Regions from separate parts of the Homo sapiens genome. Here region 2 is linked to region 1. A link means that fine-mapping ties the variant in region 1 to the expression of a gene that starts in the linked region. Tissue or cell type: tibial nerve. Region 1 holds a variant in brackets; the other region holds the start of a gene. All regions are shown on one strand. Distances are between the middles of the regions.

Region 1 (2,755 bases):
TAGATGAGGATATTGAGGCCTGAGAGGTCAAGCGGCTCTTGAGATAGGATTGGTTGGGCCTGAAGTGGAAGCCTCCCTCCCCCTTCCCCCAGCTTGTAGCAGCCTCCACACAGTTTCCCAAGAGCTGGGACTGGCACCCTGTGCACTTGACCTTGATTTAGGTGGTACATGCACTGATAGGGTGTCCTTTCTTAATCATCTTCCAGTCGTGAGCACTGAAGGAGAAAGGCTCAGCTGGGTGCTGAGAGGTTCCAGGCCTCTCACTTGCTGGTCGTTTCCAACATGGCAGTTGGCGGGACCGGGTTTTGAGATGGGAGGACAGCAGACGATGACGGCTTGGGATCCAATGAGATGGGAAGCGATGCAAGACACATTTCGCTTCCTGCTCTACCTGACCAAACAATTGCCTTAGCTCATTGCCATGGGGGTGGGCAGCGCTGCTGACACTGAGCAGCTGCCCCGTCCCCCGCCTGCCCCCGCTCACCACATTTGCCACCTTGGGGAGCAGATTCTGGACACACCCTTCCCCAGGAAAGCGTCCTATGCCACCTGGCCCTGTATTGCCTGGGAGGAGGGGTCCTGGGGAGGCAGAGGAGGAAAGCAGGGAAGGCCCCCTTCTACCTGGGCACCACGCCCTTCCACCCACCCTCTTCTACCTGACCGAAGACCCCTCTCCTACTCCCACCACATTAGTGGGTCTCTTCCTTCCAGCTCGTTCCTGGTCCGGGCCCCATTTACTTCTTATGTCCCAAGGCTCGGGGGACAGAGGGAAGGCATGGGTCTGTGGGCTATGTACGTGGCTCGGGTGGGGGAGAAGGGGAGATCAGGCCACACTGATGATGCCTCCACTTCCCAGGCATCTGGGGGCTCCCACGGCTCCCCCTACAGTAACAAGTCCCCTTTTACAGCAGTGGAACCCGACGCTAGAGAGGCATGTCCAGCACTCAGGGCCGTCCAGAGGAAGCTGGCCTGCATGGGCGACAGCACGGTTATGCCCGAAACTGCTCTGGAATGAGCAGCTCATTGGGGTGGAGGGATTTTTTGGTGATTCAAAGACCCGACCAACGGGCCGGGGCCCAGGAAGCAGATGCAAGGGGGAGTGGATTCGGCCAAAGCACCTTGTGCCGACTGTGTGGGGTCCATGCCCCTCCCCCAGCCTGCTCGGTCCCTGCCTTAGAGAGAAGGGGAGGGCTTCTCCCAGGCTATGCCAGGAATGTGGCCCACAGCAGCACGGCAGGGGGAAAGGGCAGCCTGCTGCCCAGAGGGTGGGCGGAAGGGCATGGTGCCCCGGTAGAAGGGGGCCTTCCCTGTTTTCCTCCTCCCCCTCCCCAGGACCCCTCCTCCTGGGCAGCACAGGGCCAGGTGGCATAGGACGCTTTCCTGGGGAAGGGTGTGCCCAGAATCTGCTTCTCCCTAAGGTGGCAAATGTGGTGAGCGGGGGCAGGCGGCGGGGGCAGGGTAGCTGCTCAGTGTCAGCAGCACTGCTCACCCCCACAGCGATGAGCTAAGGCAATTGTTTAAAGAAATGTCCACCCAAACTCAGGCATATT[G/T]CCCCAGGGCAGCTTTCTGAGCAGAGGTGGAGACAGGCTTCCAGGCAGCCGGGGCTGCGGGAGAGGAGTGGGGGCCGGTTGTCTGCAACCTGGTCGCTGGTCAGCTGGGGCTCAGGCCTCACATCCCCTATCCTTCATGAGCCTTAATTCTGGGAGTTGGGGCCGATGATGACCTCTTTTGACAGATGAGAAGACAGGGTCAGATGTTCGGCTGCATATGCTGTGGCAGGGCCTGGACTCGAGTGCCCCACTCACAGCCCAGGCTCGGCCAGGAGGCCTCCTGTCAGCCAGATTGGGATCCCATGGCTGTGACTTCCTCAGCACAACGGCTGTGATTCCTCACAGCCAGCAGCGGTCAGTGGGGGCAGTGAGGTGGGGCTCTTGGTGGCGTTGCCGGAGTGGCTGCAGGCCCGTCCTGCGCGGTCTAACTGGGACAAGCTGAAGTCCACAGAGGTGGTTCCGGATCACCTGCCTCCTCCCCCTGAGCCCTATGACCCTCCCGTCACCCAGGGGATGTGAGGACAGGGAGGTGGCCTCAGGCTCACCCCACGAGGATTCAGGCAGCGGAGAGTGGATAGGGAGCAAAAATGCCAGAGACACAGGGAGAGATGAAAGACAGCTTGAGCGCTGGCAGAAAGCAGGCATGACCTCTGCCCTTAGGGCTGAAGACGAGCGAAGGGAGCCTGCCCAGGGGCCCCACCCCAAAACCAGGTAGGGTGGTCTTTCCCTTGCAGCACACTTTCTGATATCCTTTAGTACATTCCACTAGATCCTCCAGATAATCCTACGCAATAATAAGATGCAGGGTTGCAATCCCAGCACCTTGGGAGGCCAAGGTGGGAGGATCACTGAGGCTGGGAGTTTGAGACCAGCCTGGACAACATAGCAAGACCCTATCTCTACAAAAAAATTTAAGAAAATTAGCCAGGCATGGTGGTATGCACCTGTAGTCCCAGCTAATTAGGAAGCTGAGGTGGGAGGATGGCTCAAGCCTGGGAGGTTGAGGCTGCAGTGAGCTGCAATCTTGCCACTGTACTCCAGCCTGGGTAACAGAGTGAGAACCTGTCTCTAAAAAAATAAAAAAGATAGAGGGAATAGCTTTCTGCATCATACTGGAACACTGTGGCATCTCTTGCCTCCCAGCCTGCCCTGTCCACTGCCCTCCCAGGGTGTCCTCTAAGACCCACGGAAGCAGAGGGCAGTGC
Region 2 (2,755 bases), 40 kb after region 1:
TGAAATGGGAATAACAAAACCTGCCCCAGGTTGAGTTAAGGACTTAAATACCATCGGGAGCTGGTACTGCACAGAAGCGTGCAGCTCAGCACACAGTCTGGTCCAAAGTGCTGGTCCCTTTTCCTTGGCAAAACTGGCTCATGCCTTTCATTTCACTCTTTTGGAGTCCCAAGCCAGCGTGTAGGACAAGAATATAAGGGAAGGTCTGAGAGGTTGGAGGACACAGTCCACCCCAGACATGGCCCAGGCAAGGCCAGGGCGGCACCAGGAAACCCAAGCTAGTGAGAAGAGTTACTGATCTGTGCCTCTTTGAAGCAGAAGTGAGGTGGGATGGGGAGGTGGGAACAGGTTGAGCCCATTATCCAAACAGAAACGGAGAGTGGTTGCAAAGAGGGAGAGGCCGATAAGTGAAGAGGAAGGAAAGCCGAGGCGTATGGGGGGCTGGGGACAGAAACGGGAATCCAGGTTGTCGGAGGGCAGGGGCTGCAGAAGGAACACGCTGGAAGGAGGGGTGCTGGGGAAATGGGAGAGCTGGCACGGAGGCGGGCCAGGCGGTAAGGGTGGAAAGGAAGAGCAAGTTCCTGGAGAGAGGAAGGAGGGGTTGGAGGGGACGACAGTGACCTGTTGCCTGGAGAGAAGAGAGGGAAAGCGAGGGAAGGGAGGGCAGAAGCTGTCACCTTGGGTCCTGCTAGAGGGCAAGTGAACGGGGCTCGCCCGGGAGTGGAAGGCTGACGGAGGCCTGGGTTGGGGTGGGGGGCCCCGGCCCGGCTGTACCTGCTGCTCCCCGCGGAGCTCTCCCACGTAGTACTGCTCCAGCCAGCGGCGCGCGTTGGCCGAGTGCCTGTGCGGCGGCCCGTCCAGGTCGGCGCTGATGTCCTGGCCCGCCCTGGCCCGCAGCAGCTGCTCGCCCCCCGGGTGGTGCCGCACGAAGCTGGAGAGGTCGTAGAGGCGGGCCCCGCGGCGGACCCAGCACGCGCCGGCCGCCAGGCGCCGCTGGACCTCGGAGGGCGAGAAGGAGGCGGCGGGGGGCGGAGCGGGGGCCATGGCCGGAGACCGCAGCTCCCAGCGCGCAGCCCGGCGTCTGCTCTGCTGCCACCCTGAGCGCCTCTAACATCCCGGGAGCCCCGCGGCCGTTCCGGGCGGGCCGCCACCGCACCTGCTCATTTGCATACCGCGCTCCCATTGGCCGGCCGGGAGCCCCGGCAGAGCCGCGAGGGGCGGGCCCGGCGCCGGGAGCTGCGCGCCAGGTGGCCGCGGACAGGGAGTGCCGCGCCCGCCAGGTGTGTCCCGCGCGGGAGGAGGGTGGGCGGACACAGGCGGAGCGAGTCTCCCCGTCGCGGGTGGTTGTCTGGGCGGACATCCTCGGTGGCCTGATCGCTGCTGGAATAACTTCAACTGCTTCCACGGAGGAGCTGGCCGCATGGGACCCTCTGGCTCCAGGAGGTGCCCGAGAGAGCGAGAGGCGAATGAGGTGCTCGCCTCGGGTGCAAATATTTGTTTGTTTTTAAAATTTCAGTAGCTTTTGGGGTACCAGTGGTTTTTGGTTACATGGAGGAATTGTATAGTGGTAAGTCCTGAGATTTTAGTCCACCTGTCCCCCGAGTAGTGTACATTATACCCAATGTGTAGGGTTTTGTGTGTGTGTGTGTGTTACACCCCCTCCCATTCTCCCTATTGTCCATTATATCACTCTGTATGCCTTTGCGTCCTCATAGCTTAGTTCCTACTTATGAGTGAGAACATACAGTGTTTGGTTTTCCATTCCTGAATCACTTTCACTTAGAATAATGGCCTCCAGCTCCATGCAAGTTGCTGCAAAAGACTTCATTTCGTTCCTTTTTATGGCTGAGTAGTATTCTATCGTGTATATCAACTACATTTTCTTTATCCACTCATTGGTTGATGGTTATTTAAGTTGGTTCCATATCTTTTCGATTGTGAATTGGGCTGCAAAAAACAAACATTCGTGTGCAAGTGTCTTTTTCATATAATGACTCTTTTCCTTTGGGTAGATACCCAGTGGTGGGATTGCTGGACCGAATGGTGAATCTACTTTTTCTCTCCTCCCCTCCCCTCCCCTCCCCTTCCCTTCCTTTCCCTTCCCTTCCCGTGACAAGGTCTCACTCTGTCACCCAGGCTGGAGAGTAGTGGTGCGATCTTGGTTCACTGCAGCCTCGACCTCCCGGGCTCAAGCAATCCTCTTACCTCAGCCTCCCAAGTAGCTGGCACTACAGGCATGCACCACTACGCCTGGCTAATTTTTGTATTTTTTGTAGAGACGAGGTTTCACCATGCTGCCCAGGATGGTCTCAAACTCCTGGGCTCAAGCGATTTGCCTGCCATGGCCTCCCATAGTGCACTTTTTTTTTTTTTTTTTGAGACAGAGTCTCACTCTGTTGCCCAGGCTGAAGTGCAGTGGCACAATCTCAGCTCACTGCTACCTCCGCCTCCCGGGTTCAAGCGATTCTCCTGCCTCAGCCTCCAGAGTAGCTATGACTATAGGCGCGTGCCACCACGCCCGGCTAATTTTTTTGTATTTTTAGTAGAGACGGGGTTTCACCATGTTGGCCAGGTTGGTCTCGAACTCCTGGCCTCTAGTGATCCTCCCGCCGCAGCCTCCCAAAATGCTGGGATTACAGGCGTGAGCCACCGCGCCCAGCCCCAAAGTGTACTTTTAGTTTGTTAAAGAATCTCTGTACTGTTTTCCAAACAAGTTGTACTAATTTACATTCCCACCAGCAGTGCATAGCATAAG

The links. PIP is the estimated chance that this variant, and not a neighbour inherited with it, causes the effect.
Region 2: it holds the start of FA2H, and the variant in region 1 is fine-mapped to the expression of FA2H in tibial nerve (GTEx, PIP 0.98).

Annotation. Positions count from the first base shown.
Region 1 is chr16:74,733,364-74,736,118 of GRCh38, forward strand. The region is part of intron 2 of FA2H (fatty acid 2-hydroxylase); the gene reads right to left. Among named protein-coding and RNA genes, the nearest start is that of MLKL, 34 kb to the left of the region's middle. RefSeq lists an enhancer at 132-691. The variant G/T (reference allele first, on the strand shown) is at 1,551.
Region 2 is chr16:74,773,712-74,776,466 of GRCh38, forward strand. It overlaps FA2H (fatty acid 2-hydroxylase), which reads right to left and starts at 1,109. Exons shown (of 7, transcript NM_024306.5): 1 at 775-1,109. The coding sequence starts at 1,044. RefSeq lists silencers at 746-795, 836-1,205, 1,216-1,345, 1,356-1,415.